4 linked regions of the Homo sapiens genome follow. The protein of the gene in region 4 purifies or fractionates together with the protein of the main gene of each other region. This does not show direct contact. Each region holds a gene or a part of one and is shown on either strand. Other genes may lie near its edges.

Region 1 (8,003 bases), on a different chromosome or scaffold from region 4:
GCAGTAAACAAGAGAAAAGAAATGAGTAAGAGGGAGCATCTGGCAAACATGTGTTCAAGGCAGAGGCCTGTGTTTACAGCACAATGTAGGAGCTGGAGAGGAGAGGAAATAAAGATGCATGAGAGAGAATAATGACAGGCTCTCTCCACTTTCTGAATGATGTCAGACTCCTAAGGTTGGGACACCTTGTTCTCAAAGAGAAGACATTTGACTTAGGGGATAGGTTGGAAAAGTACTTCTATTATGGATCAGGCAGTGACATGCAAAGAAACTGAAATCCAAATAGGTGAAGTAATGTACCCAAGGTCACCAGAGAGCCTGTGTCCCTCAACATCAAAATGGCCTGCCTTGAAAGCCCACCCTTTCCACCATGCCATCAACTCCACTCCCACTGGAAACAGGGACTGTTTCAATCACCCCACGCCCACCTTGTTCTCTAATCAAAACAAGAAAAGATATCAACACTGAATTACCCAAGTCACTATTATACTGAATTTTCACATTTGCAAAACCGTTTACAAGAATCCAGAGTTTATTTGTTTGTTTGCTCATTTATTTATTTATTTTGAGACAGGGTCTCACTCTGTTGCCCAGTCCGGAGTATAGAGGCGTGATCACAGCTCACTGTAAACTCAACCTCCTGGGCTCAAGCGATCCTCCTGCCTCAGCCTCTGAAAGCGCTGGGATTACAAGCATGGGCTACCACGTCTTGCCCAGAGTTTTAAAAATATATAAAAACAGGCCAAAGCCACCCAGCTTATCCATTTTCCAGGACTGCCTCACTCTACTTAACTATGCATCAAGCACTTACGATTCTCTGGGCATCCTGCACTTGACTAAGGACCATGAGGGTATAGAAGAGACAGTCATGTCTCCTGTCCTCAAGGAACTTGTGCTGAGCAAATCTCTACTGCTCTATGTCTTACATTCCCCATAGATAAAATGGCCCATCTTCTCCCATGTGCCTCATGAATAACCTATACAATTTGATTCAAGGAAAAATCAAGATCCCTTAGCACTTCATTTAGAAAGGCCAGGGTGCATCCACTGAGCAGGGAAAAAGAGAAATAGGCTCAAGGTTGATCCAGAGACAGTGGGTCTCATTATTTCCTTTCCATCCTGATTCCACAGGGGCAGAAAACAAGGGCAGCACTCCCTCACTCATAAGATCACTCATTTGGACAATTCAGATGCCCTGCAACCATAGGCCTCAATCCTACCAAATGCCCAGCTAAGGCTTAAGGCTATTTACCCCAAGAGAGTCACCAGACAGCGTAGAGCCATGTCAGGCTGAGGCCGGCAGTTTTAGCTGCAGACAGGCACATGTGCCCTCATCAATATTTGAACAGCCATATGCAACTGGAAAAATTGCTTCTTTGAAAAATGGCATTTAGCTTGCCACCTGCTGTCGATCCCAAACAGAACAAATCATTCTTGTCCTGCATGGTAAGCATGATTACAGGCTCAGCTAGCTACCTCCAGCCCTGGTATTCTACTCTGACGCCAAGAGTCCAGATAATACAGTTAATTCTACATCTCCTAGTTAGTGAGTCAAGACATAGCCATAATCTCCTCCTGGCTCCCACCCCTCCCTAGCCTTTCCCTGCACTTTCAAGAGGCTATTTCTACATCTATAGTCTTCTTTCACTGGGCATTGGTAGCACAGCTAAATAATATTCTTAGAACTTTGCTGGGCCGGACGTGATAGCTCATGCCTGTAATCCTAGCACTGTGGGAGGCCGAGGCAGAGGATCCCTTGAGCCCAGGGGTTCAAGACCAGCCTAGGCAACATAAGGAGACCCTGTCTCTATTTAAAAACAAAAAACAAAAGAACTCTGCGAGTGGCACAGTACTTGGGTTTACTGTTTTGCGCCCAGGGCAAATTACTGTGAATTTTAAATTTTCTAGTTGCTAGCCCATGTTCATGAGAAAAGAAACATACCTTTTGACTAAGGAAAGAATTGTTAACTCAGACTATTTTACTAATGATCCCAATGGTCATGCTGGTTGAGTCTCCATCCCCATATGATTAATCTAAGCTGATAATATAAATCCCATTCTCCTTTCCAGCCATTGGCTTAAGAATGGTCATATGACCGAATCCTTACCAATAAAGCTTTAAGAAAAATCAGCTAGTGGGCTAGTAAGAAAAGTTTCTTCCATTCTAAAAAAGGGACACAAGAAAGAGACAACTTCTCTTCTTCCTCTGGATGTTGTCATTTTGAATGTAACCCCTGTAACTCCTATGTCCATCACACATCCAACCTGAGGATGAAAGCTGCACATGGGCAGAACCAAGGTCCATTGAGGAACTGCTGAATCAGCCAACAAGGAGCTCTATTTCTTTTTTTTTCTTTTCTTTCTTTTTTTTTTTTTTTTTTTGAGACAGAATCTCACTCTGTCACCAAGGCTGGAGTGCAGTGGCATGATCTTGGCTCACTGCAACCTCCACCCCCCAGGTTCAAGGGATTCTCCTGCCTCAGCCTCCCGAGTAGCTGGGATTACAGGCGCCCGCCACCACGCCCAGCTAATTTTTGTATTTTTAGTAGAGACAGGGTTTCACCATCTCGGCCAGGCTGCTCTTGAACTCCTGACCTTGTGATCCACCTGCCTTGGCCCCCCAAAGTGCTGGGATTACAGGCGTCAGCCACCGCGCCCGGCCAGGGGCTCTATTTCACAACCTCTTGCAACATGAGATAATTTACTTACTGTATGAGCCGATCTGAATCCATTTTCAGTTACTTCTAGCTGCAAGCACTGTAATTAATTCAATTATTAATCTAGATGCTATATCTTATAACTCCTGCAAAAGCAATGTCACATCAGAGACCCCTGTTTCCCATGAACACTGTAACTCAGGGATCATTCGAGAAGGAGGGCAAATATAAAACTCTGTACTGCCCTCTCATCTTTCAGGACTGTGCCTATGTCTACCACCTCCCAACCAATGTTACTATCATGAGAACAATTTCAGAGACAGTAAAATAATCCGTCAAAGATTTTTTGCTAAGCCAAGGGAAATCCTCTAGATCATAGACAAATTAGCAACACATAAACAAGGCTGCCTTATGAATAAGAGCCACATTATGAAATAATGGAGGGCAGTGAGGGTTCCTCTCCCATTCCCCAAATATTCGCCCACTACTACCTGGCTATCGCCCTAGGTTCTCCAAGTGGAGATTCACCCTTTTGACCTGAAGTAATTATTGTTAAATATAAATGCCCATTTAGGGTTAACATGTTAAATCTTACTAACACTAAAATTTCTAGTGAAAGCTTATCAAATCTTTCCTGACAGCAAAATTTGAAGGGATGAAATTGGAAAGAGAACATTACAGTGAACACTTGATGTCTAAGAAAGGAGGGGAACACAAAAGGGGCGAGAATGTTGAAAGGTGCCACAAGGGTCTGGAAAAATTATACTTACTTCCCAATTCTGTCTCCCGTTAGAACTCACTACATTTATTCAGCTTGTGGAGGTCATGTGACCATAAGTAATAACATTCTCAGCCAATGAGGACCCGGGTGCCCCTTCAGAACCTGGCCTGGGGCCAACCCTAGGAGTTAACTCCAAAGTGGAACATCAAACCAAAAGCTTCAATATCGCATTGAAATCATATCACTCTCCGGGCCAGGCGGGAGGAACAGGAAACCACACAGTCTGTGAGATCAGCCAACTCCTTTTCAGCACTCAGTAAGACATGGAAGCCAGATGGCCTTTCCATCTGGACACCAGGCAGGTCGAATATTCCCCCAACTCCCTACCTACCACTGTCTGGGACCAGTGGTTTCACTTGAAGAACCAACCAGATATAAAACTGTATTAGCATAACCACCAAATGATTTTACAAATAACTTGGCTTTATAGGAATTCTGCATTTTAAACAAGCAGAACTTCTGTTGTTACTTTCACAAAGACTTAGTTTTTATGATACACTTTTTTAAAAGGATATAATCATGGCGAAAATTGCAAAAATTGTTTTATTTTCCAGATGGCTAAACTGAGATAGAAGAAAGGAGAACATTATCAAGATCTTGATGTTTATCATGGGCAAACCACCTGCCAACCTCTCCCCCTAAAGCCTCTTTCCATGGGGCCTTCCCACTTCCCCTGTTCTTCATCCAACGCCTCCACTGACCTTGAGTGGTGTTGAGTTTCTATATAGTACTGAAGCTCCCTTTTTCCCCCAAGAACACTTGGTTGAAAATTACCTCTAGTCCAGTTTTACATGGTGCCTACAAGTTGTATTTCTTCCATTTTCTAGACATAGTGACGAGGTAAAAATCTGAATAGTACCAACAGGTATAGTGTGTAGACATGCTTCCCTTCATCTCTTGACTTCCACTTCCCCAAGCTGCTTTCCCAAAAATTATCCACTTCTTGAGCATCCTTCCAGATACAGTTTATACATATATAAAATACATTTTAAAATTTATAGATTATTTTGCTCTTTAAATTGCAAAAGGGGGCTGAGCACAGTGGCTCACACCTGTAATCCCAGCACTTTGGGAGGCCAAGGCAAGAGGGTCCCTTAAACCCAGGAGTTGGAGACCAGCCTGGGCAACATACTGAGATCCCGTTTCTACCAAAAAAAAAGAAGAAAAAAATTAGCCAGGCATGGTGGCACACACTGATACTCCCAGCTACTCTGGAGGCTGAGGTGGGAGGATCACTTGAGCCTGGAAGGTTAAGCCTGCAGTGAGCCATGATTGAGCAACTGCACTCTAGTCTGGGTGTCAGAACAAGACCCATCTCAAAAATAAAATAAAATAAAATAAAATAAAATAGAAATTACAAAAGCACAGACAATTCCCAGAAAGTAATTTTCAGAGAATTTTATAGGAATACAATACAAATGGCAGAAATGTCCAACATACAGGCAGGTCTGGGGAAAGAGGCAAGGTTTCTTCTCACGGTGGTACCGAACCCCAAGAGATATTCTCCTGATTTCTAGATTTGCCATCTTTTCTGAACCAATTTTAGCCTGTATTCCATCTTGAAGCAACAGCTTTCCTAAAATCAGTACTCACTGAATTAAAATAACATTTCATCATCTGTATGGAAACAATTTTTTAAGCTTCAAGAGGAAGCCCAGAGCTTTAGCAATTCAGGATCTAATGATCAGTCCATCTTTGCCCTATCCATATGCTTCATTATTTTGTAGACTCTGAACCTGTCTGCCTTTGTCCTTGTAGACCAAGATGTCTTCATAACTAACCAAATGAAAAAAAACATTGCTCCTAACGGTTAACAGAAGGCTCCTGAGAAACATCATAATCTCAGCCTTGGGTAACTTGAACATTCTAAATTGTTTAAATCAAGTATGTGACAGGTTTGCTAAAACAGAGCATTAGCAATCATGCATGTAGTAACTAAATCCCTAGTAAGAGCAACAAAAGTGATCTCACTAGGAAGGTTTGGTGGCTGCCACTGTCAGCCTCATTTAAACATTAGCTGCTTTCAGGCTCAGCAGTTCCTATATTCCAATCACTCTCTCCCAACCTCTTATTCAGTTCCTTCTCTTTAAGTCAGGATTCTTCACTCAGACAGCCTGATAGGCAAGTACTTGCAGGCAGGCAAACATGGGTTTGAATCCTGGTTCTATCACTAAATAGCTGTGGGAACTGAGCCAAGTGGCTTAAACTCACGAAGCCTCATTTTTCTTATATGTAAAATAAAAGTAATAAAAATGGCTCATTTCACTGGGTCATTACAAGGGTTAAATGGCATAATATTTGTAAAGCACTAGACACAATGTCTTTCAGCAGGACCAGCTACGTAATTTGTGAAACCCAGTGCAAAATGAAAATGTAAGGTCCCCAGTTCAAAAAGAATTAAGATTTTCAAGATGGTGACAGCACAGCATCAAACCAAGTGTGGACCCCGTGGCACTGCATGGGTGGCAGGCCATGTGGTCAGCCCTGCCTTTCGGATGATAAACACTCAATAGATGGTAGCTGTCATCATCTCTTACCACCCTCACAACTCGTATTTGAACCTCACCCTCCCCTCAGGCTCTCTTCAACTTGGAAAGTTTTATGAAATCATTCCAAAAACAGGCACTGGTGTCTCAGAAGCACCCAGAGTTTATAAGACAAATAACTCACCAAAATGAGTAATCTGAAATACATGATATTAACACAGTCTCATGAAAATGCACACCTACCTTAGGCCTTTGCTCTAGTTCTTCATCCTGCTGAGCTAACACTCTTACCTCCTTCCAATTTTTGTTCAGATCCATTTTCTATGGGAAGCTTGCTCTGATCACTCAGTTCAATCCCATAGTTTGCTCTTCTTCCACCTTGTATTCTCTATCCCCCTCACCTTGTTCTACTTATACGTTTTCCATAACACTTATTTCATCCAACATAATCACTTCTTTATAATGTTTATTGTTTATGTTCCCCTACACACACACACACACACACACACACACACACACACACACGAATATAAGCTTCTAGAAGTCAGGGATTTTGTCTGCTTCTGTTCACTCATGTTTCCAAGTGCTTTATATATTCCACAAATATTAATCGAAAGAACAAATATCTCTCTGACTGAATGAATAATCAGGCCATCCTTTTTCTACATAAAGATTCAGCTAGAGTAACAAACAGCTCTGCCCCTGGATATCTAACAGAGTTCAGGAAACAGATGGGAAAATTATCTCCCCACCTCTCCCAAACGTCCCTTAGTTTGAGAGAAATATAACCCAATCATTTGTGCTGCTAAACCAATACCTCTTTCAACAGTAATTCATATGCACAGTTTGTTGCACTGACTTGCAGCAATGATGAGCAGCATTTTACAGGAATGAGCTGTTCACAACAGACATGTACCTAAGTGGAGGACATAATAAGCATTTTTTAAAAATAGAAATAAAAGAAAAATAATCACACATTCCTGCTTTATCACAATGACAGAAAAACTGGGCTGTTAATATCAAAGCAAATGTAAGGCCTCTACTCCCTGAAAGTGTGCATAAGGTGTTAGTTAGAGCCAGTCCAAGCAGTTCTTCCCAGAGTGAATGCCACAGTCACGGGTAGCATCTCGCACCTTTCCCTGTGAACTCACAAATGCAAGCTACAGGGCCAAAGAACAGCAAGGTAGATGCCTGTGCGTAATTCATCCCACCAGCTGAAAGACAACCCCCTAGCTGTGGCATTGCAGCTGCTGGATGAGACACTGTCACAGCGAAAGAATACTTCAAGAACAAAAGAGAAGGGCTGCCCCTCTGCATATGGATAAAATGTAGCCTGTCAGTAGAAACTCCTGGAGCACCCATTCATCAAAAGATATTTGAGGAACAACATACTCCAAGTTCTTTACTGAGGACAGGAAGCACATCTGGTACCCCAACCTCCGTGCTGCCCACATAGTGTCCCCATGACAAGCTCAGCAAGCAAAGCCCAGAAGATCACACTGAACATCTGGCTTTTGCCCCAGCATGAACTACCACTCCCTCTCAGCCCTGCACTCTGCATTTTTTTTAAACAAGCCACTCTCAGCCACCACAAATACTTCGGTGGGAATCAGCAGGGAGGCCCTCATTCCTTGTCTCAAAATAACGTCAGCCAGAGTCAAAGGCCAAAGAGGTGGAGCCTGCAGGCCATTTTGCGAAAGTTTCAAATATCTTGGTACTGACCCCATTAAAAAAGCGTGAAGGGGAAGCAGCCAAGCCTCCAGTGGTTTTCTCATTAGTGTCCCCCCTCACCCCAGCCCCACCCCCATTACAAACGTCTGCATGGATAAGAATCAAACAAAGAGATCTTGCATAAAGTCCTATGATCAGTGCTGGCTATTGAAAACAAAATTTCATTTTGCAAACTTAATACCAAAAACTTGACATTAAAAACTTTAAAAGAAATGTGCGTGCTCTGGGACAGCTTAATCCCCCAAGAGATCTCTGAGGCATTAGTATAAGACTGAACAAGCAACTGGTGAGCTGTCCCACCTTCCCCAGAGCCTTTCTTAAATATGCAACTGTCTCAGATTTTCCATA
Region 2 (8,003 bases), on a different chromosome or scaffold from region 4:
GTCCGTGGGTCTTCATTTCTCCATCTGTAAGACCCTTCCTACTCTATTAACCAGAATGTCTGACATCATTTGCTAGCAAGCCATAATTTCCAACCATTTTTTTTTTTTTGCCTTCACACCACTGACAGGAACAATAATTCATCAGAAGCAACATCTCTTGCGACGTGCAGTGATTCCCAGGCCCACAGATGTTCCCCTGTAGAGAACAAGTGCTAGTGGGTTGGTGCAAGCACCAGGAGCTCTTCTGAGGAAAAGGCCTTGCAGTTATTTACATTTATGATTCTTCAATGCTGGAAGATCGTGGATCAATCCCAGGCTTTGCCAGTTCTAGCTGTGTGACCCTGGGAGAATTACTTAATGTATCTGAGCCTCAATTTCTTCATTTATGTAGTCAATATAATCATAGTTCCTGCTTCACATTGCTAGAACTTAAAGAGACAATGAATGTAAAATGCTGAGCCCAGTACTTGACCATAACAAGTATAGAATTGACACTAGACGTTGTTATTTAATAGCTCTTCCAAACTAGAAAACTCAGAGCTCTGTCTGGTGGGCTGGATGGGATTCTATTGTGAGGTCTTTAGCTTCAAACAAGTAATAATAATGACAATAGTAAGTACTATATTTTGGATGTTTATTAGGAACCATGATACACATCTGTCATTTCACCTCATTAATGTTCACATCAATCCTTGGAAAAATGATAGTATTAATATTACTCCCAACTTATAGACAAGGAAACTGAGGCTCTGAGAAATTAACGGAGTTCTTTAAGGTCACATAACTGATAAGTGGCAGATCCAGTTTTCAAACCTAGATATGTCTGACTCTGGAACCCAAATTCCTATTGTATGTGATGCTGCATTTTGAAGTGACTTCTCCTTAGACATTATAACTTAAACGTGGCCCCTTCTCAGTGAAATCTTTTAAATTTCCTATTGCTTTTGGAGGCAAAGGGCTGGTCCCTGCAGGAAGGATGCAAGTACTTTCAAGCTGTTCCTGTCCTTTGGGATCCCTGAGTTCACTGAAGGCTGTTAGTCTGTTGGTGGACTCCTAGCTCCGGCCTTCTCTCTGCTGTGCTGCATAGCCTCCTTCTAACAGAAGTTTCCCCAGACCCCACAGTGTTGTGTGCTGGGGTAGCATACTTACTTGAGTCATTTTCTCCCGGTTGGCCTTGGGGTTCAGGGGTGCCTCCGTGAGCAGGGTGGGATGCTCTTCAGGGGCAACACGAAGCTCATTGTAGAAAGAGTGGTGCCAGATCTAGTGAGTTGGGGGACAGAGGAGAAACACAATGATGTGCTGTCATGAGGTCCTGCATTTCCCAAAAAGGGACCAGAAGCTACTTGAAACCAAGACCAAAGGAAATGCTACAAGTACTCATGCATGTGTCCATGGTTTTATAGATGCAGAGACTGAAGCTCAAAGTGTGTAAGTACCTTCCCAAAGGATTCACATCTACTAAGTGACTGAGCAGAATCCCTAACCCAGATCTGTGAGGCAGGATGGTATGGCAGTTAAGGGCACAACCCTTGATCAAACCTTGGGTTCAAAGCCCAGCTCGGACACTTCTTAGTTGTGTGAGCTTAGGCAAGTTTTTAACCCTTCTCAGCTTCAGTCTCATGATTGGTAATAGGGAGATGAAAATAATTAGTGTGTACCTCATCGGGTCTTTGTGTAAATAAATAAGGTAACCCTCGAGTTATTGTCCAGCCCAGTGTCTGGTCCAGAATCAATGTTATTATTATTCAACTCTATTTTCTTTGTTCTCTCTTCCCATTTTAATGTTCATGGGAAAATGATTTAATTTTGTAAATAAAAAGACAAATGAATGTATATATGAATAAATGACGCTTACTTGAAAACCTAATTGACACTTTTAATGCTTCTAGAGAAGTTGCCCTTTGCAGTGTACATGAAGAAGAGAACAGGGCTCTCTGACTCTTGCCTCCATCACCCTCTTTGCTCTCGAGGGATGAGAAAAGCTTCCTCTATCAGCACACTCTGGATCTTCCACTCACAGTCAGACATTTGGCCTTCAGGTGTTTCCAAAAGGCCCACGCCTGTGTATAGTGTGTCTATGTGAAGGTACTTTGGACATAACTACATTTATTTATGGTTGAGCACTTTCTTTAATTCCTAGATGCCGAAAAGAACAAACCATTGCAAAAAGGACTAAATTAATTAATCTTTAAAAGCACGAAAATTCTCCACCAGAGCCAGGAATATGAGATTCACTCAAAATCAAAACAGAGCAAAACAAGAACTGCTGGTGAAAGCTTACAAATTAGCAAAACCAAGATTAGCTTTAAAGACTATCTTATTCCACTTTCTTTTGTTTTGGATTTGTGGTTTATAGAAGGGAAATGAAACTTCTGAAAGTTTTGTTTCTTTAGTGGAGTGAAAGCAGCAGACTGCTCAAAAAATCCTGCCAGTCACAGCAAGCAACCTTTCTCCTCTCTCTCTCTTCGTCCCCACCAGAAGATACTTTGAATTTAAATTTTAGAAATAAGGAAAGTTTTTTCTTCCAATAGTCTCTGTCTAGGACGATACATTCTAAGATGTTGTCAGCTCCATGGAGAAATTCTAAAAGAATATTTTCCTATTGATATTGATATCTTTTTCTCTGTGCAAACTGCAATCTTACCAAATCTAGAATCCTCAAGCAAACCTACTGATATGAAATTTTTGTAGAAAGATAGAGCTTGGAGCATTACTGCTGATAAATTCTAACAACATTATGTATTTTTCTTTTAAGTGATAAATTGTGTGCGTAGTAGTAGTAGTGAGCCGATAGATAAATAAAAGGCCAGATATCGTGATTCTGATATATCTTGCTGCATTTAAAATTTTTTATGTCACTTTCTCATTATTTCTTCTGTTTTTTTCTCTGATCACTGGTGTCTGTAATGTTTAATGACCAAACATCAAAATCTTAGAATTTAGCTCTTCTTCTCATTAGCTCTTTTATTAAGTGTCTGGGAGATAAGGCCTCATGTAATGCAACACAGATAAATAATTTTTAAAATATTTATCATATAGCTTTTTTCAGTGGCTCTTGTGCTTCAGTGTGTGGAGAGGCATTCAGAAATGTACCAAACCTGCAATGTTACACTCCTGTTTACTATAGTGAAAACAAAAACATTTTTAATTTAGATGTTTAGAGTGAGTTAATGAAAACCTTTCAAGAATGGGCTGTTTAAGACTACTCCCAGCATTTCAAGCCCCTTTAGCTATATTGCACTGAGAGGGATAACCATGCAGCCCCTGATGAAAATGAAAGGAGGGTTTTCATTCTCTGAGCTGCTGCTCATGCACTGCTTGTCCTAGGAGGGCAACAGAGTTGACGTGAGCAACAGATGATTAATTCCCTGCAGTGGCAAAGGGCTACTCTTCTCATCTACAGAACTATCATCCTTTAATTAGTTAATAAAACCTAATAGGCAAGGACATTTTTTTCCTTTTCTTTAGAGACAGAGTCTTGCTCTGTTGCCCAGGCTGGAGTGCAACAGCTGATGGTATGATCAGCTCACTGCAGCTTCGAACTCCTGGGCTCGAATGATGCTACCACCTCAGCCTCCTGAGTAGCTGGGACTACAGTTGCATGCCACCACACACTGTTAATTAAACCTTTTTTTTTTTTTTTTTTTCAGTAGAAACAGGGTTTTGCTATGTTGCTCAGGCTGGTCTCAAACTCCTGGCCTCAAGTGATCCAGTGCTGAGATTACAGGTGTGAGTCACTGTGCCCTGCAGGATTTTTTTCTTCTTTTTTTTGAGATAGGATCTCACTCTGTCACCTAGGCTGGAGTAGGATCTTGGCCCACTGCAGCCTCCATATCCCAGGCTCAAGTGATCCTCCCACCTCAATCTTTCAAGTAGCTGGGACTGAGGTGTGTGCCACCATGCCTGGCTAATTTCATTTATTTTTTGTAGAGACAGGATCTTACTATGTTACCCAGCCTGGTCTCAAACTCCTGGGCCAAGCGATCCTCCCACCTTGGCCTCCCAAAGTGTTGGGATTACACGTGTGAGCAACCATGCCTGGCAAGGGATTTTTTTTTAAAGAAACATTTTAGGATTTTTTTTTCTTTTTTTTTTAAATTTTATTATTATTATACTTTAAGTTTTAGGGTACATGTGCACAACGTGCAGGTTTGTTACATATGTATACATGTGCCATGTTGGTGTGCTGCACCCATTAACTCGTCATTTACATTAGGTATATCTCCTAATGCTATTCCTCCCCCTCCCCCCACCCCACAACAGTCCCCGGTGTGTGATGTTCCCCTTCCTGTGTCCATGTGTTCTCGTTGTTCAATTCCCACCTATGAGTGAGAACATGCGGTGTTTGGTTTTTTGTCCTTGCGACAGTTTGCTGAGGATGATGGTTTCCAGCTTCATCCATGTCCCTACAAAGGACATGAACTCATCATTTTTTATGGCTACAAGGATTTTTTTTTCAATGGGTAATAACCCAGAATGAACATTAACAAGTAAAAGTACAGTTGAGCAATGTGAGCCAGTTATTTCCCCAGCAGTAGTGTGGTGTTCTGTATCAGAGAACACAGGGATTATGCATCCTGAGGGCCCAAGCTGCAGCAAACCTCCCATACCTTTTCCATGTCGTCCCAGTTGGTGATGATGCCATGTTCTATCGGGTACTTCAGGGTCAGGATTCCTCTTTTGCTCTGTGCTTCGTCACCCACGTAGCTGTCTTTTTGTCCCATTCCCACCATCACCCCCTAAAAAGGTTCAACACATTATGAGTCAGCATCTCCCAAAACTTGTGAATCAATTACAGCCAAGCCACAAAAGGTTAAGTCATTGAGATGGGAAGTTCCTCTTCTGATTATCAGCAACAATAAACATATTGAGTCTCATTGCCACTATGCTCTTAAGCAAAATTCTGCAGTTGATTGGAAAAAGACCTGAATTGCCTCCAAATAACAGGAGATGTTGGGGGAAAGTCAACTTTACTTTGTATTTTTATCTCCTATGTTCCTTGATGAGCTTTTTTAGGGCAGAGATCATGTCTGTCTTGTCCATCACTATAGCAAATTGCATGGCACATATGTGGCACTCAATAATTATTTGTTGAAAGAATGTATACAATTTTACATATTTGTTAAATGGCATTTTGTGTCTTATAAATCCTTTAAACTGTACTTTTAAAGTCATCACCTACCCAAAAGAATATGAGCATTATTTTCTAACTATTATAAGCAAAAGCATTGCATCTACAAATAACCACTTGAGGCTTGATTTCTAATGGATAAGTTCATACCAATCAACTGTTAAGACATTTGCCTAAATTAGTCAGCTGCATTTAAAAAAAATCATTAAGGTGAAGTTCTTAAAAAATTATTGTTACTAGATTTTAAATTGCACTGCAGTGACTATTTTAGAACTACAAAACAGCCATGGCTACTATGGACCCATAAAATAGCGGCTTGTGCAGAATATCTCCACTGCATAAAGATCAATGAATTCAGACAGACTGCATTCATTGGGAGAGGTTTCTATTATTTATTCTCATGAATATATCCCAAGCAGAGAGGCATAAACATCAATCAGATAGCCTCAATGCACAAACTACATTTCTGATGTGAAGAAGAATTTCTGAGGTGAAATTACTGAGTTTTTACCATGTGATGCCACCAATACTTTGTTTACACATAATGTGTAAAATTACCATGCGGCTGTCCAAATATATTTTGTTGACAGGTAATATTATGTAAAATTGCATTTGGTATCGATGCTTGCTTTCATCTAACATCAGCCCTGTATGGTTAAGTGACCTGGACTTTTATTTTAGTTTCTTTCCAAACAGTAGCTTTGGTATACATCAGGATAATGTATAAGCATTTCTGATGGTGATGAAATGATTTGATGATGATGATGATGATGATAATGACTATATTTAGACAAAAAGGACATGAAAAAGGGGCAGACTTTGTATCTGATAGATGCCCATCAGATAATCTGTCTACATTATATGTGAAATTGGCATTTACTCCTGGACCTTAATCATTAGAGGTCTATTTGTAACAAGGTTACATAACTTCTGGGCAGAAAGAGATAGACAATCTGGGGATAAACATGAACACAGAGGAACCTAATCTGTGTCCTGTTATGTTCCAATCATAATTTTCCTCACCTGATGTCTGGGACGTCCCACAATGGATGGGAAAACAGCCCTGGGAGCATCGTCCCCAGCAAAGCCGGCCTTACAGAGCCCAGAGCCATTGTCACACACCAAGGCAGTGCTGTCCTCTTCTTCACACATAGCTGGAGCTGCTTCACAGGATTCTATAGAAAACAGGGAGGAAGCAGCCTCAGCTGTAATTGGGCATTTGTGGCACTTACCTGACAACTCCCACCTCCAAGGCTGGGTTTGGGGGCCCTCCTCTGTGTCCTAGTGCTATCCTCTGACCCTTATCTAATATAGCATGTATCTGGAAGTACTTTAGTTACACTATAAGCTTTCAGTAAGCTGAAACTCTGACTTCTGAAACTCTGACTTCTATGTTGATACAACCTTAGTGTAGTGACCGGCATATCATGTGTTCTCGTGAGCACTTTAAAGGTGGATAGAGCCAGTGAATGAATAAACAAACTGCAGAGCACAGATGGGAAATCCAGAGTCTGAGACCAGATCTTTGCAGAGACAAGTTGCCTACCTTATGTTAAAGAAGCATCTAGATTTTCCTGTCTGTATCAACCCAAATGCACATTTTTCTAGATATGCTATACCTTTTTGAAATTTTTTCAAAAAGCTAGATTTTTGAGGGACAGGCAGCATGTAAAAATTTAGAAATGTTAAAATGGTCAAGTGTTTAATGGAAAAATCTTTTTGAATCATGAGGACTTTTACTTTACCCTCAGAGAAGCTTTGAAATAAAATTTTCTGAGAAGGTGCTTTAAATTTTAGGGGCTGCAATTATCCACCGTTAATAAAAGTCACTGTTAAGCTAACAGTCCAACAAGTGAGGGTGAGCCTGATGGATTATATATCATATGGTAGAATACTTTACTGCCATTAAAAAGGTAGAGTAAGAGGATAAGCAAAAGGTAGTTCTTATGTAAGAGTAATAGGTTAGAAAAAGTAACATTGTAAATCTCATTAAAAATGTATTTTTTATGCATTGCAAAAAGATTAATCATATTTACCAAGATGTTGACTGAGGTTATTATGAAGTGGTGGGTTTTATAGGTGTTTTTAATTATTTTCCCATGGTTCTGTCATATTTTTTTAATTTTCTATATTGAATGTGTATTTCTTTGGTAATAAAACAAAATTTTAAATAACCCATTTTATACTTGGATCTTATACTTGGATCCTTTCATAAAATTAGAAAGGCTGGAGCAGCCTATCAACTTACAAATTTGAGAAATTGAAGGCATATTAGAGGACATTTTCATCCAATGCTCTCATTTTCACAAATAAGAAAATCAGGAAGTGATTGCTCAAGGGCACACAGGGCATTAGAGGCAGAGCTCCAGCCAGACATCAGGTACTCTTTAGCCACCCCTTGGCTTCCAGTTCAAGACCTCTTCCACTTTTCTAATCACAATTAGGTCGAAATGTTCCGTTAAGAGAAGGACACCCAGAGTTATCTGCCTGGCATTGAGATCTCAATTAGGATTTCAAATTGAGAAAATTTCTTCTTCTAAATGGGTTAACTGATTGCACCTCCAAATCCATATAAAAAAGGCAGTTCTTTTAAGGAAACATCTGAGAAGTAGGGAAATAAAATAGCTATTACAGAGTTGGAGTTCTGCCAAAACATTCCCACAAAATCAAACCTGCATCTTGCCAAAGGCCTAAAACTTCCTTAGCAGTGCTTCATGTAAAATAACTCTTTGCAAAGAACATAAAACTGCAATTGAGATGACATATTTTAAAGTCAAGGCATGTAATATTATCTTCAACTGACAAGGAAACCAAGGCTTAAGGAGTTGAAGTGACTTGTCCAAGAGCCTTGAACTGATACATTTAGGACAAC
Region 3 (7,826 bases), on a different chromosome or scaffold from region 4:
AGGATCCTGGATAGAAAACTGTCTCCTCCACCCGCCTTTGGGTAGGGGTAGTAAGGTAAACTAAGATGAAATATCCAGTCCTTTTGGAGCTGGGTACCTGATACTCACAAATAGCAGCTACAGTTCCTGGTGGACCCTCAAAGGAACGCTTCTCTCATTCTGTGCATAGGGAGCTTCTGGGAGTCAAGGGTTGGATGGGGACCATTTATGAACCTAAATATTGGCTAAATAACTGAGCCTAAATTGTGTGGACCTTAATATACATGCATTGGATAACCCTTTTTTTTTTTTTTTTTTTTTTTGAGATGGAGTGTTGCTCTGTCTGTCGCCCAGGCTGGAGTTTAGTGGTGCAATCTTGGCTCACTGCAAGCTCCGCCTCCCAGGTTCACGCCATTCTCCTGCCTCAGCCTCCCGAGTAGCTGGGACTACAGGCGCCCACCACAACGCCCGGCTAATTTTTTGTATTTTTAGTAGAGATGGGGTTTCACCGTGTTAGCCAGGATGGTCTCGATCTCCTGACCTTGTGATCCACCCGCCTTGGCCTCCCAAAGTGCTGGGATTACAGGTGTGAGCCACCATGCCTGGCCATGGATAACCATTTTTAATGGCATATGGAGTATACAAATTTCATCATTCCTAATATATTTGTTTTGAAGACTTGTAATTTGAGAGCTATTTAGAAAATAATGCTATGCATTATGATTCAATCCAGGGTTATAAACTGCATTGTCGTAAGAACTGGACAGACAGGATTTAATAGGTTTAAGCTTGCCTTTTAAAGTACATTCTGAAAGGAAAACAGGAAATGATTTTCATACTGTAACAAGCCAATTCTGATGCCATAAAACGTCTTCATTTATTCAGCTTGTTTAGGTAGTAAAAGCACCACTGCATCAATTTTAACAGAATGTAACTTTTGAAGGTCTGAAAAACTCTACAATGAATAGCTATTGCTCTAGTATTTATGAAAAAGGTCAGAATTAAATATGTCAACCTATAGAGAGAATAACAGTTACCTAGATCCTCTTGCTATACCCAAGGACAAATGAACAACCCACATTCAGGTATTTGTTTGACTAGTGAACATGGAAGCTCATTCTAAGCAGTGTTAACTTTGTTTAATGAAAGCAGAAATACTCAAGTCAGTCACCCCATCCCCAACAGTCAGCACTTCATCCTCTTCCTTCCTCATCCCTAGTCATAGCTATGGCCAATGCAGTGATAAACCCAAACCATCAAAAACCAAGCTATATGAGCTTAGGAGGTTGAGGTTGCAATAAGCTGTGATCACACCACTACATGCCAGTCTAGGTAACAGAGTGAGACTCTCTTAAAAAAGACAAAAAACCCACCAAGGTATAATTTGCCATTTTCTCAATTTGTCATTAACACAATCATCTACCAAGCTTAATGAACTCAACAAACTTCTCAGTGGGAGAGGAACAAAGAGGCCAATAGCAAAGGGCCACGCCTTAATCCCACTGAACTTTTCACCATGAAAAATTCCCACCATTTGTTTTAAGGGCATTAAGGGTCCTATCATCAAAGCTTTAACAGAAAACTTACCTGTAATCATTATTTGCAAAGTTAAAGCTACACCTTAACCAAACAGCATTTCTGAGAATTATTAATCTAAAAATTATCTTTAAAGGGGGGCAGGGGGAGACTGACAACATCCATCAATAGAGAATGGATAAATTGTGATACATTCAAACACTGGAATGCTACCCAGTAATAAGGAACAGACTATGAATACAATCAACAACATAAGTGAATCTCCAAAAATTGAGCAAAAGTAAAACATAAAAAGTACATATGTGGGCCAGGTGCAGTGGCTTACGCCTGTGATCCCAGTACTTTGGGAGGCTGATGTGGGCAGATCACTTGAGGTCAGGAGTTTGAGACCAGTCTGGCTAACATGGTGAAATCCCGTCTCCACCAAAAATACAAAAGTTAGCCATGTGTGGTGGCACATGCTTGTAGTCCCATCTACTTGGGAGGCTGAGGCAGGATGATTGCTCAAACCCAGGATGCGGAGGCTGCAGTGAGCCGAGATCATGCACTCCAGCCAGGGCGACAGAGCAAGACTGTCTGAAAAAAAAAAAAAGTACATGTATGATTTATATAAATTTCTAGAAGCAAAATTATGGTGAGAGAAGTGGAATGATACTTATGAGGGGAGGGATTAATGGAAAGGGGCATAGGGAATTTTCTGAAGAAAAAGTTTTATATCTTTGTTGGGGTGTTACCAAATGTTACATCGCAAATTTTAAATCTGTGCATTTTGTTTAAATTATACCTCAATTTTGGCCAGGCATGGTGGCTCACACCTGTAATCCAAACACTTTGGGAGGCCGAGGCGGGTGGATCACAAGGTCAGGAGTTGAAGACCAGCCTGGCCAACATGGTGAAACCCCATCTCTACTAAAAATACAAAAATTAGCCAGGTGTGGTGGCCCGCACCTGTAGTCCCAGCTACTTGGGAGGCTGAGGCAGAAGAACTGCTTGAACCCAGGAGGCAGAGGCTGCAGTAAGATGAGATCGCACCACTGCACTCCAGCCTGGGTGACAGAGCGAGACTCCATCTCAAAAAAAAAAGAAAAAAAATTTTACCTCAATTTTTACAAATTTGAAGTACTATGTATCTACTGGGTCCTAAAATTAAATATAATCTACCACACATAGGAAGCATCTAATCAATCTTGTTATTAAAAACCAACACAGGACATTCAGAAAGCAGATATGAAGCTTTAATTCACCATAGGCATTTCTCCAACCATTCTGTACATTAAACTTTCATGTCTTCACACATATACATCTTTTATAAGACAGTTTTCTTAGCAATATGGTACTCTGTACCATACCAACATTCCATTTAACTAGTTAAGGGTGTATTATATAACATGAACCACTGATTAAATATAAATACAGAAGTTGAATACATAGGTTAGAAAGTTTAAATTTTAAAAAAATTTAAGAAAGGCTAAATACCATGAAAGTTTACATGTATTCTTTAATTCTAGACACCGTACAACAGTGACAACCAATTACAATAAAATCACAATTGCTTTTAGATGACAGTACTTTCAGATTTCTAATACCCAATTACTTTCATTTCCACAATGTCAACTTCATGCTGCATTTTCATTTCTATAGAGCAGACAAGCTTCCAGACTGCAGACCAAGTTTCTTGTGTAATAATACTACTATCTTGATCATGACCACAGGAAACCAATTTTATATTCCCTGTACTATAGAGATGAGACATTATTTGGTGTATATGAAACTCTTCAGTGGTGGTGTTCAAGAATATTCAAATAGTAGCTGAAAATAGGGTTTGCTAGAGCAGTCCACATATTTCATTAAAAGAAAAATGCCCAGTCAAAACATTTAGAAATAAATATATAGTACAGCCTTTCCCTCTCCCAAATACTACCCAGGAAAAAAGTTCCAAGCTGACTTAAAAAAAAAAAAACACACAAATAAAAACAAAAACACCTCAAAAAATAAACATTATATGATATTCTGAGCAGCAATCTTCCTGAGTCTATTTTCAATTGAAACAAATTCTGCAGCCAATAGTACACTGATTCAGTATCCACAGTCCAGAAGGAGTTCTTGAACATCTAGTTCATATCCCCAAAAAATGTGAAAAGACTCCTAAACACCCAAGTTATTACACAATGGGAAGCTGATATTGGCTTGTATTAAAATCCAGGTGAATATCAAACATAATCACAGCCTTAACAGTGATGCTAGAATAAGTGATGACAATATGTGCACAGCTGTATACAGATCACTATTAAACACAGGAACAAAATGCCACTTGATGCATATCAAAAAGCCAATTTGAATATATTTATTTCATTTACATTGATACAGTATTAGAAGGGACTGAATATAATTATGGAGACTGCTGCAAACATTTGATGCCACTAAGTATTCTATTAAGCATCAGGCATGCACAGTAGTTACCTTTTAAAGTTTCTCATGTATATATCTTAACACATATATCTTAAGCTACAATATGTTTAAAGCATTTAGTCATTTTAAACCCAAATATTTTAATTGACCTATGTCTAAATGGAGAAAAACAGAAACTTCCTCCTGTCTCAATACCCGATGGCAATATTAAACCTTACTCCCCAAATTGATATTTAAACTTATTTATGTCATCTTTAAAATTCCAAAAATAATGAAAAGTCTTATCATTACTAAATAAGAAGTACGATTCCCCGGCAGCAGTCTACCCACCACACACTTACGGCATGCCAAGCCTTTGGGGATTACATAAGAGTGATGTGCTGGTGGCTACAGATGACAATAATTGAAGAGATCAGTCTCTTCTTTTTATTCTGGATCTCCTTATTTTAAACTAAAGCTTTTCATTAATACAAATAAAAAAATCTTTTTTTCTTTCTTTAACTTCAATAGAAGAGTAGATAAAACTAAAAACCCTTATTGTCTCCAAGTGTGTGGCAAAATAGAAAATCTTTCAATTACATTAGGAAATCGGGTGGATAACGGAGTATAGTTATTCCACTTAAGAAGCATTCCAGTCAAATAATCACAAAAACAAATTCAGATTGCTTGGATCTTGGTCATTTATGGCTTGAAGAACTGGATTTGAAAACCACTTTAGGCTAAAATAAATGTATATGAATAATGCATAGACTGTGTATCTAGAAAATCATGCAATAAATATATGTTCTCATGTACACTGGAATCTCAGTGAAGAAAGGTGTGAACAGTACTGTTTCTTCACTTTAACCAAGAGACTACACACAGCAAGATACTTGCTTTTGGCCTATTCAAGATCTTATTTGCCAGGTCATCCTAATTTTCTCAGGTTGGTAAAAGAAGCTAATGTTTCAAGACACCTGTGATAAAGAAGTGACTTGCTTCAAGTGCAGGTGCCATGAAATCTGAGCTAGGCAGGACCAGACTCTCCTGACCCTGCCACCCTGCTGCAAAGTCAATTTGGAGTACCTGACTAGCTAGAGTATCAAAAGGGTAAATGCTTAGAATGACCAACTGGAAATGTTTATTATAGTAGTATCTTTTTAAAAAATCTGCCCTTTAAATGTATATCATTTGAGAATTGCCAGTGAAAGAGCCACTCACTATTCTTGGTTTTGATACGCCCCTACAACATGAGAATTGAACTGAACTACAATGATTGTAATGTCATCTCTGTACATTCGAGCAAGCTCTTCAGGAAGACTAAGCATTTTAGAGAGGCGCTCATGATCAACAGTCCCAAACTCGTTGTTGCCCACAGCGTGGCGAATGAGATGGGTTGCTGCGTTCTGATCCTCAAATACCGAGGACATTTTGGTTCTCCTTTCTGTTAAAAGGCCATGCATCTGTCCCAGAGTCACCTTGTAGCCACCAACAGCTATTGGCTGTTGGTGATGCATGCCAGTTAGGTACTCACCCACAATCCTAACCACATCCTGCCTATGCATAGTCTCCCACAACCCATCAGTAGCCAACACCAGAAACTTATCCTGTGGCCTTAATCGGTGGTAAGTTACCTCTGGCTCAGCAGTGAGATAAGGAGGTGTGTGATAATTAGGAGGAATAAACTTGGTATATTCATTGTCATTCAACTGGTCTGGGCCAGATTCTATCACTCTCTTTTGAAGGTCAATGCTCCATTTGAACTTTACATCTCCAAATGCCCTAAATGGCATCAGCAAGCCAAGCAGCCGATCCTGTTTCACGACACTCTTGGCCTCACTCTTTGGATGTTCCAATTTCAGCCGTTCTAGTTCTCTTTCATTTTGAGCATTGTGGTCATTAGACAGCGTGACTGCTGACCATGAGCCGTCCTCTTCCTGCACACCCAGCATGGCTCTGCTATCGCCAGTATTGGCCACATGAAGGTCAACACCATCCACATGGGCCACACAAGCAGTGGCTCCAGAAAATGCCACTCGAAGCACCAGGTAGTTGAGAAAAGAATTAGGATCACCAACTTGCGCCTCCAAGGAGATGTCATTATCAAGCCTCTTGAAGGCATTAATTAGAGCCTCCTTAACATCAATATCAGTCGACTCACCAGTGTTGAGGTCTATAAGCTCTTGCCAGTAAGTCCTCAAGCTGTTAAAGTACAATTTGGATGCCTCCTTACTAAAGTAATCATTGGGGTGCTTGTGCCACTGGAGAATGGGTAGCAGTGCCCGGCCGCTCTCCACTGCATTTTCAATCTCTAGCAAAGTCTCATGGGGTAACAAAGAGACAGCAATATAATAAAAGAGTCTTTCACTGACTGCCTGGGAACAAGCACAACCTGCATGGCCATCAAAAACCCCCAAAAGCATCCCTCTGGTCTGCAAGCAGGTTGCTGCACTTCTCCGGTCCTCAATGGGTGCATTTGCAGGCAGCTGATTGCTGTCAAATCCAAGGATAGAACTGACATTTTTGCCGTCAAATTCTGGCACTTTGAAACTGTATTCATTAGCTTTAAGGATGCTATTGACTTGTGGAGGTGTGAGGTAAAATTTCTGTGGTGTGGAAGCATATCTCCTTCCTTGGGTGTACTGCCACCAGTTCTCCTTTGGCCTGCAAAAGGTAGCATATGCTGGATGAGGTGTGTATCTCAGTCGACTCTGAGGAATGTACGATGAGGAACAACAGAGATGTTTGTGGTGGCAGTAACATGCAGTGCCATAGATCCTGCTCAGTTCACAGTTACGGATGAGAGGAAAAAACAGTTGAGTTGGTGCTGGCATGGCATCAGAGAACAGTGGCAGGCTGGAACTTCTGACTGGGATTCCTAGACAGCAAATTAGACAGATGTACACAAAGGAAAGAGTTACATTTCAGGATACTTAATCTAGCTTTGCCTTTATAACAAATATTAAGCAAGTCAATCTACATGTTAAGCCTTTGCTAGAAGGTACTACATTTTATACACACATCATGTACTATTTCTACAGGGTATATTCTGGCAGGCACAACTCCCAATCATTCGTGGAACCACGACTGAACTCCTGGCTCCTATACTCAAACTTCAATTTTCTCTTTTCTTTGTCGTCCTTTGTGCAGTACAAACTGTGCAGAATGTACAACAGATTTGGCTGGGGAAAGCTGAGGAGATGAAGGTTATATAACATTATGCAGTAGCCGTCTACCTGACCAATCATCCTTCTCCCTCCCTATTCTTAAAAAATGCCTTGAAATCTCCCATTTTACACAGGGACTTCTTCCATTTATGAAGACCCTTTACATAGACCTGTGGTCAATTTTTGGCATGATTACACATGGCTATGACCAAAAATGTTAAGAGGCAGCCAAACATATGTGTATTTATGAATTACGTGTACATCATATACATATATGACTACAGTAATATGCATTGTAACATATATAGAAAAATTTCTACATAATTAAATAAAAAAAGAAATTCCAGTATTTCTCTCCTGTACCCCAGTAGATGGTCTTGCAAAACTTGCTTCTCTAGTCCACTGTGGCAATTTGCCAGGCTAACGGGCATAGGTCTGCCACCAACTCCCAAATAATCTTGGAAAAGTCAGCTCACATCTTTGAGTCTCACTCTTCTAACCTGTAAAGGAACATCAACAGAGCAGATGCTATCTAAGGCTCTTCTAGGATTCATGCCTTTATGCTTATGGAAGTGAGGTTTTTAAATAAAATTCAGGTTTCATTTATTCACTGTTGAATTCTACCGTGCCCTTCATGATTAAAAAAAAAAAAAAAGTTTAAGTATTGCAGTAGCTCTAAAGCTTTGTTAGTAACATAAATGGTTTCAGTCCTAGAACTTAATTTACCTACTAACAATGTTCCCTGCTTAGCAGCTA
Region 4 (8,003 bases):
TGATCTCCAGGTCAGGCCCAGGAACCGGGCAGTCTGGGTGGGAGAGAGGAGAATGGGGGTGGTAAGGACCAACTGGACTCAGGTGAAGACAGCTGGGATGACAAAGGATGCTGGTATGGGAAGGGAGCAAGAGAGATGGAGGGGGAGAGGGAAGAACGGGAGGAGGTGGACAGGGAGAGAGGCGAGCGTGTCACACAACAGGCAGAGGAGACAATGGCAATGGCAGAGGCTTGGCAATACAGAAAAAGCCCGACTTGCAGAGAGTGGAATTGAAACTGAAGGAGCTCCTGGAGGCCACACACAGCCTGCTGTGACTACTCTGGACACAGACTGCATACTGTCTTGAGCACAGTCTGGGCATCTGCCCTGGACACTGGGCAGCCCCCAAGGCTCCCTGATTGAAGACCTGCTCTGTACTTGGTGCAAAAGCTAAATCAAAACCCTTCCTGTCCCCACTTGGACCTGCTCCTCTGGGCAGGATTCAATCCAGGCAGGCCAGGCAGGTGGGGGCAAAGTAGGACAACCACCATGGGACTTGTCCTCAAACCACACTTCTCAAAAGGGCCTCCTATTCGGGCATCTGGGAAACCACCCACCTCCCTGGGCAGACCTGACCTCCCTCACTACACTGCTTAAACCCTTCCCTGACTCCTCACTGCCATCAGGACAAAGTCCGAGCTGTTTACCTGGATTTAGACGACCCAGCTCCCATCTCCACCCTCATCTCTCATCACTGTTCCCTCTGAACCCTGAGCTCATGTCGTATCAGATCACCCAATTGTCTCTCCTTAAAAAAAAGAATTTTTTTTTTGAACTTGGGCAAGACCTGTCTCAGATTGCTGACTGATGAATAACATCAGCGTCCTTACACATACAGTTGGGAGGAGTCAATCAGTGCAGGAGAGCTGTCTGACAAAGCCTGGGACACAGCATGCTGGTAAAGAGAATGGTTCTTGTTCATTCCTGCGGTTCATCCACCTGCTTGTTTAACATCATTTACAGATGCCTACTGTGTGTCAAGCCCTGTGCTAGGATGAACATGATGGATGGGTTCCCACGGCCTCAACAGATGGCTGTCTACACAACCTCATCAAGTAAGACTCCTGACTGACTTGGCAGTTTATGACATGAATTCTGCAAATCCATGCTCTCTCTAGAGTCAGCCCATTCCAGACGAGCCTTATCTGTCTCTGCAGCCCCAGTGGCCAGCACCGTGTGGAGGAGTCAACCCCTCACTTGTTGAGCAGGGCAGGGACCTGCGGTTAGCAAGTCTCTAATCTTCCTTTTGCCCACTTGTCCCAACATCTTTTTGAGATGGGGTCTCACTGTCGCCCTGGCTGCAGTGCAGTGGCACAATCTCTGCTCACTACAGCCTTGACCTCCTGGGCTCAAGCGATCCTCCTGCCTCACCCTCCCGAGTAGCTGGGACTACGGGTGTGTGCCACCATGCCCAGATAATTTCTGTATTTTTTTGTACAGATGGGGTTTCGCCATGTTGTCCAGACTGGTCTCAAACCGATCTACTTGCCTCAGCTTCCCAAAAGTGCTGAAATTACAGGTGTGAGTTACTGTGCCCGCACTTGGCCCAACTTCTGCTCTCCCATCTCCAGGATGGTCTGTAAGCAGAGGTCAAAACAGCCCTCTCACTTCAAACACCTGTTCTAAGAGGTGAAGTCCACTGGTTCCTGTGTGGTCACCTGGCATCTGAAAGAATCCCAGTAGGCTGATGGGCAGGACTCCCCTCCACAGAAATCTCACACTTTAACTGTCCCATCCCCTCAACCCCTTCTAAGTTGAGTATTCAATGATCCTGTAAAGAAAGAGATGATGACAAAGAGCAACACAGACACTAAGATTATGACATAGGGTGGGAAACATGAGATGGGGTAGGAGTAAGGGGTGAGAGATGATGACTCAGAGGGGTGGGGGCAAGACCTGAGAGATAAAATTGAAGCAGAGGAGGAAAACAACCCCCCACAATTGGGGGAGATGGGTGCAGAGTGGTGTGAGGTATGGGGAGAGGTGCCAATGCAGTCTAGAAGAACAGTGGACATGAGACCCAGGAGAAAAAAGAAAGGTCAGCTGAGGATGTTGGCCAGGCAGAGTCCCAAGGGTGGGGCACCTCACCTGGAGGGAACATGAGAATGGCCTGGGGTGACGAGTGGACCGGGAGCGAGTGGGTGCGCTGCACAGAGCTGCGGCTCTGACTGGGCATGCTGTTGCTGCCTCCAGGGTTGGCAAACCACAGGTTCTACACAGGTCCCAGGAAGAGAGAAAGTAGTGAGTGCAGAAGAGGCCCAGACCCAAGAGTGGTGGAGGTGGTACAGGCCTTCTCCCACTCCCACCCCCGCCACCTCTAAGCTGGGTCCAGACACAGAGTATACAGGCAAATAGACATCCCAGGTACTGCCACCCCAACCCCAGGAGGCCAGGCCCCTGCTTCCAGCCAGCTTACCTGTCGGCCCTGGCCTCCAAGGCTGGGGCTGGTGAGGGCATGTCGAGGGGAGACACCCCCAATGCCCGAGGGGCTCAGGAGGCCCATCCGGCCGGGTGGGAGGGCCCGGGGAGGCATTGGGAACTGCCGCTGGGTACGCCGGGCCACTCCCATCCCCACAGAGCCAGCTATGGGGAGCGAGTTGGAGCCGAATGCCCAGCTATGAGAGAGCAGAAGGCAGGGTGTTAATTTACATAGATGGGGCCTATCTGTCCACCCCTTCCTCACCTTCCCCAACAACCCCAAGTTGTAGGAGAGAACATAAACCTCCATCACACATTCTGTCCTCATCTGCCCCAAGGGTACCCCCTGGAAGGAGATGGGACATGTACAAGGGTTTCTTCACTGTCCACTCAAAACAGTTCTCCAATCTTCAATTCTCAAAGGAGACATTTCTGTTATTTGTCTGGTCTAAGGAGGGACTTCCAGGCCCTCTGCATACAGGCGAGGAGCAAGGTACATATGAGGGGCCTGCTCATGGGACATGTGTTGTTTTTCAGCTCAGCATCCTATTCTAGTGGAAATTTTCTTCTGGGAAAGTCGCCCAGTGACTGAATAAAACTAGATTCTCAGCCCAGAACACAATCACCCCTCTAAGCACGATCTGCTAACCAGCAAAGGCCTATGGAGGGCAGGTCCCTGTAACCTGGCCACCCGCCTACCCTTTCTGCTGCCGGTAGTTCTGCATCTCTAGTGCGGCTTTGCGCGGGAATGTCCGGAGGAGCTTCAGCACTTGCTGTTTCCAGGATAGCAGCCGTTTCTTCTGCGTCTCCGTGAAAGCCTAGAATTGGCAGGACACCGGTGAAGCAGAGAGGGTGATGCTTCCTTCAGACCTCCCTTCCAGTCTTCCATTCATTTGTTCAAATATTTATTGCCTGGCCGGGCGTGGTGGCTCAAGCTGTAATCCCAGCACTTTGGGAGGCTGAGGCGGGTGGATCACTTGAGGTCAGGAGTTGGAGACCAGCCTGGACAACATGGTGAAACCCCACCTCTACTAAAAGTACAAAAATTATCCAGGCATGGTAGTGTGTGTCTGTAATCCCAGATACTTGGGAGGCTGAGGCAGGAGAATCACTTGAACCTGGGAGGCGGAGGTTGCAGTGAGCCGAGACTGCGCCATTGCACTCCAGCCTGGGCAACAGAGCGAGACTCTGTTTCCAAAAAAAAGATTCATTGCTCATCTACTCTGTGCCTGTGCCAGGCAATTCTGGGATGCAGAGGTGACCATGCCCAGAGAGCTTACAGTCTGGTTGTGAGGGAAAGATACATACATGATGATAACTGTGACAAATTATCCCTCCCTGAGGGAGAAGAACAGGAAGCAAAAGAAACTTAAATAAAAATGAGGGGTTGGTAAAGGTGTCCCTGAGGTATAAATGTTTGAACTGACAGCTGAGGGGTGAGGAGGAGGAAAGGGTACTGTTGCTGACAAAAGAGTATGTACGGGCTGGGCATGGTTGCTCATGCCTATAATCCCAGTACTTTGGGAGGCCAGGGCAGGGGATCGCTTGAGGCCAGGAGTTCGAGATCAGCCTAGGCAATAAAGCAATACTCCATCTCTAAAAAAGAAAATCGTCACGCCTGTAATCTCAGCACTTTGGGAGGCTGAGGTGGAAGGATCACTTGAGGTCAGTTCAAAACCAGCCAGGGCAACAGTGTGAGACCTCGTCTCTATTAAAAAAAAAAAAAAGAGAGAGAGAGAGGAAGAGTGTGTACAAGGGTTCTGAGAAGAAGCCTCTAAAGCCAACACTGGTAAGATACAAGACTGGAAGGGCTGGCATGTGCCACGTCAGGTAAGGCCCTATGGGCCACATACAACACAATGGTCTTGAGAAAGATGGGGCAGGCTTTCCCTCACTCTGTCGTCCAGGCTGGAGTGCAGTGGCGCGATCTTGGCTCACCACAAGCTCCACCTGCCGGGTTCACGCCATTCTGCCTCAGCCTCCCGCGTAGCTGGGACTGCAGGCACCTGCCACCACGCCCGGCTAATTTTTTGTATTTTTAGTAAAGACTGGGTTTCACTGTGTTAGCCAGGATGGTCTCGATCTCCTGACCTCATGATCCGCCCGCCTCGGTGGCCGAAGTGCTGGGACTACAGGCGTGAACCACCACGCCTGGCCGCCTTTCCCTTTTTGAGTATGCTAGGGAAGGCCTTACCTCATGAGTCAGGCACTTTTCGATGAGCTGGAGGTAACTGGTGATGTTCTCCTCGTCTGGTCGGGACACCAGCAGTTGGGTGCACACTGGGGGGACATGAGAAAGGGCAGGAGGTTAACCCCTAGTATGCCCTCTGCCATGTTCCAGCCTCCAGCTGGCTCGTGCACAAGAAGGAACAGGAGACTCAGGCTGGATGAATATCAACTATTAAGTGCTAGCCATGGTATTTGGGTTATCATGAGGATATACAACATAGTGCCTGACACAATCTTGTCACTACACACATTTTTAGCCTTAGAAACCTAAAGCTCAGAGTTGAGTCACTTGCCTCAGGTCCAGATCCAGATCTAGACTGATCTGGATCCAAGTGTAAAGTCTGCTGTATCATGCTGCTTTAGGAAAGGCTGAAGCTGTGATAAATTTCACCATCCCCATCCCCTGGACTTTGGTCCCCTCTGAGAGAAATCAATGGACTCCCCTCAACTGCTCACCCTTTACTACATGGAATTTCTTCTGACCCACTGCCCCATTTCTGCTCAGCCTGGAGACGCTTTGAGGGGAAGGGCTGTTATCCACCATCAGCCCAGACGTGCCCAAGGGCAAGGGGCCTTGTCACCCTGTCTTGGCTACTCTCTGTAGTGTTCCAGTCTCCAGTAGGCTTTACAAAGCCCTGCTCCCACCATCGAACTTGGATTTGATCCCTGGTGCTTGGGTTCACTTGGCTTTCTGCCTCAGGATTTCCTGCTAGGCTGTGGCTGGTCTCACCTTTGCCCATCACCCGTGTAAACTGGCTGGGGATGTCTCCGTCGGCGACGGGAGCCGGGGCAGGCTCACTGCCATCAGTGGGAGCTGGAGCTGGTGGAGGTGGGTAGTTCTCCACAGCTGGAGGGTCCTTGGCCTCGGTGCCTTTGTCTGTGCCGGGGTGGGCTAGGGGAGGCTCAGCACCTGGCAGCGGTGGTTCCCCCGGGGCCCCATCCTTGGCAGTAGGGGTGGTGGTGGCGGCAGCCACGGTGGCCTGGAGGACACTGTAGGCCTTGATGGGAGTGATGATGATCTGCTGCAGCTCCTGCAGAGCGTTTCGTAGGTTCCCGCCTTCCAGCACATCCTGGATGGGAGGACACAGGCTGGGGTCACATGCAGACCCTACAATGAGGGACAGAGAGTATCTACACAGAGAGTCAGACAGGGCTTGCAGAAGGCTGGGTAGGACCCTGGGTTCCAGCACATAGAGAAGGCATGTAAGGGTACTGCAAGCCCACAAACATATAGGTACACATTTCCTCTTTCCCATTAAGATGAAGTCCCACAGAACTCACGAAAAGCCAGTCTAATGTTGGAGTCTCAAGGACCCAACAAGGATAGAATCAGAGATTCAGACCTAGACACTGAGCAGGGAAAAATACAAACAGAAGGCAGTGGCAAGGAAACGGAATCAGATGTGGAAGGAAAATGAGTTTAGAAACAATCAAATGGAAAGAGAGATTGTACAGACAGAGACACTCTGCTCTACCAGAAAGACCAGTAAGAAATGGAAAAGCAAAAGGGGAGAGAAGGTGTAGAGTCAAAAGACAGAGATCCTGGAACCACAAACCAGGAAAGACAGGGAGGGGAGACTCTTAGCCACCAGCAAGTGAGCCTTTTGATGCCGGCTTGCATGTGGTCCCTGAAGTCTGGGTCCCTAGGGCTGGGAATTTTGGAGGCCACATCCGAGGAGTCTGGAGGCCAACTCAGGGCCTTTGGTCTACTGGTACCACCAAGTGGCTGGCTGGCCTTGAAGATGCAGAAACCAGGTCCTCACCTTCTCTAGGGACTTGAGGACGCTCTGTCTCTCACGCAGCTTCTGGATGCTCAGGGCTATCTTGTGGCGGGCACCTTTGGTGACGTTCTGTGATAAGGGCAGAAGGGGACAGGAAGCTAGAGATGTGAGGCTGAGATATTTGGGGGTACCCAAATAGAGATCAAGGAGACAGAGGAGGCTTGGGCTGCAAGGATGCCAAACTAGCGCTGCCCCCAGCACCTCCCTGATGGTCCCCTTGGCTTCACCTGAGACTCCAGGTGCTGCTCAGTCAGTGTCATCATCTCCTCGTAGCTCATCTGTGAGAAGAGGGCTGCATACTTGTGCAAACGGAGGCTCTTGAGCCATGAGGGCACATCTTTGGCAAAGGAGGGAGAGTGAAAGGTCAGGAGTTTGGCCCAGATTACCAGGGTAAAGGAAAAGTTGTGGGGATAAACCCACAGGAAGCCTCAAAAGATGCAAAAAATTGGGAGGGGGTTGGGGGGAGCTAAGGTTCCATCAGCTCCTTCTTCATCTGCCTAGCCAGACCCTCAGGCAGCCTTCCCTGGGAAGGACATCTGACCCTTCTAAGCTGCTAGGCTGGATGTATACCAGGATGACCTCACTGATTGCTCCAAAACTCTTGCTGGAACCTCTGTTCCATCACTTAGCTGTGTCCTGGCTTCCTTGTCAGACTGGGGTGTGTGAAGACAGGGGGCTCCTTCCCAGTCAGACTAGAACTTGTTAGGGTAGATGTGGGGTCTCTCTGCTTAGTCCTGAGCCCTAAAAGCAGGGACTATCTACTCCCCTCAGACATGTCCCCTCCTCAGAGGGGTAAGCAGGTGTCAGCTACAAGCTCCTTTCTGTCCTCTAAGCTCTGCAGAAGCCCCTGGAAAAGGGTCCTGGTGCTGCTGTCCCCAATGTACCTTTCATGCCACTGCCATCCTCCTGGAAGGTGTTCCGGCTGGAGCCCTGCTCCTCTGTCTGCTCACTGCCAGAGGAGGCCACGCTGCTCTGGGGCGAGAGAGGTGCGTGATCGGGCGTGGTAAAAGCAGCCCGGGCCCCAAGCTCCTCTGGACTCGGCCACTCACCAGGGACCTGGGGGCTTGTAGGGATGAGTGACATGGAGCGCTTCAGTGGGCTAGGGTGGATTTGGCAGGGGAGACCTGGCCAGAGTGGGAGAAAAGCAAAATATTAGACCTGGGGACCCAACCACAGGAGACCATCCCCCTGCCGTCAGTGCCAGGATGGCAGTTTGGCCCCATAACCTGCCAAGAGGAAGGGACCTGGGGTCCAAGGGTAACTGCCTACCAGATATACCTCATTCTCTTACCTCCAACACCCAACCCATCAGCAAGCTGTCAGCCACTTTCCTGAATTTCTCCAGTTCCGCTGGCTCAAGCCACCAGCACCCCTGGCAGGAATTACTGCCACAGCCTCCTCATTGGTTTCCTGCCTTCACTCTTGCCTCCTACAGTCCACGCCCCTCACAACAGCCATAAAGGTCCTTCTAAAAATGCAAATCTGACCGAGCCTGACTCCTGCTCAAATCCCTGTGACTTCCTTTCATAGTGGGAA

What was found.
Region 1: the proteins of SAMD4B (region 4) and CREB3L2 purify together in Homo sapiens (co-immunoprecipitation; one large-scale study listed by IntAct). This does not show direct contact.
Region 2: the proteins of SAMD4B (region 4) and ACTA2 purify together in Homo sapiens (affinity purification with mass spectrometry; 2 studies listed by BioGRID and IntAct, with this or other methods). This does not show direct contact.
Region 3: the proteins of SAMD4B (region 4) and PDP1 purify together in Homo sapiens (affinity purification with mass spectrometry; 2 studies listed by BioGRID and IntAct, with this or other methods). This does not show direct contact.

What each region holds. Positions count from the first base shown.
Region 1 is NC_000007.14:137,992,971-138,000,973, forward strand, and holds part of CREB3L2 (cyclic AMP-responsive element-binding protein 3-like protein 2), read right to left. Parts: intron 1-8,003. UniProt on the Homo sapiens protein: Transcription factor involved in unfolded protein response (UPR).
Region 2 is NC_000010.11:88,942,648-88,950,650, forward strand, and holds part of ACTA2 (actin, aortic smooth muscle), read right to left. Parts: intron 6,307-8,003; 5' UTR 6,284-6,306; coding exon 6,155-6,283; intron 4,740-6,154; coding exon 4,611-4,739; intron 1,261-4,610; coding exon 1,150-1,260; intron 1-1,149. UniProt on the Homo sapiens protein: Actins are highly conserved proteins that are involved in various types of cell motility and are ubiquitously expressed in all eukaryotic cells.
Region 3 is NC_000008.11:93,920,971-93,928,796, reverse strand, and holds the end of PDP1 (pyruvate dehyrogenase phosphatase catalytic subunit 1), read right to left. Parts: intron 7,571-7,826; exon of another isoform or gene 7,434-7,570; intron 6,782-7,433; coding exon of another isoform or gene 6,738-6,781; coding exon 5,124-6,737; 3' UTR 2,729-5,123; downstream 1-2,728. UniProt on the Homo sapiens protein: Mitochondrial enzyme that catalyzes the dephosphorylation and concomitant reactivation of the alpha subunit of the E1 component of the pyruvate dehydrogenase complex (PDC), thereby stimulating the conversion of pyruvate into acetyl-CoA.
Region 4 is NC_000019.10:39,375,238-39,383,240, reverse strand, and holds part of SAMD4B (protein Smaug homolog 2), read right to left. Parts: intron 7,592-8,003; coding exon 7,352-7,591; intron 6,805-7,351; coding exon 6,695-6,804; intron 6,537-6,694; coding exon 6,450-6,536; intron 5,795-6,449; exon of another isoform or gene 5,757-5,794; coding exon 5,417-5,756; intron 4,738-5,416; coding exon 4,652-4,737; intron 3,276-4,651; coding exon 3,157-3,275; intron 2,655-3,156; coding exon 2,456-2,654; intron 2,252-2,455; coding exon 2,128-2,251; intron 1,617-2,127; coding exon of another isoform or gene 1,529-1,616; intron 34-1,528; coding exon 1-33.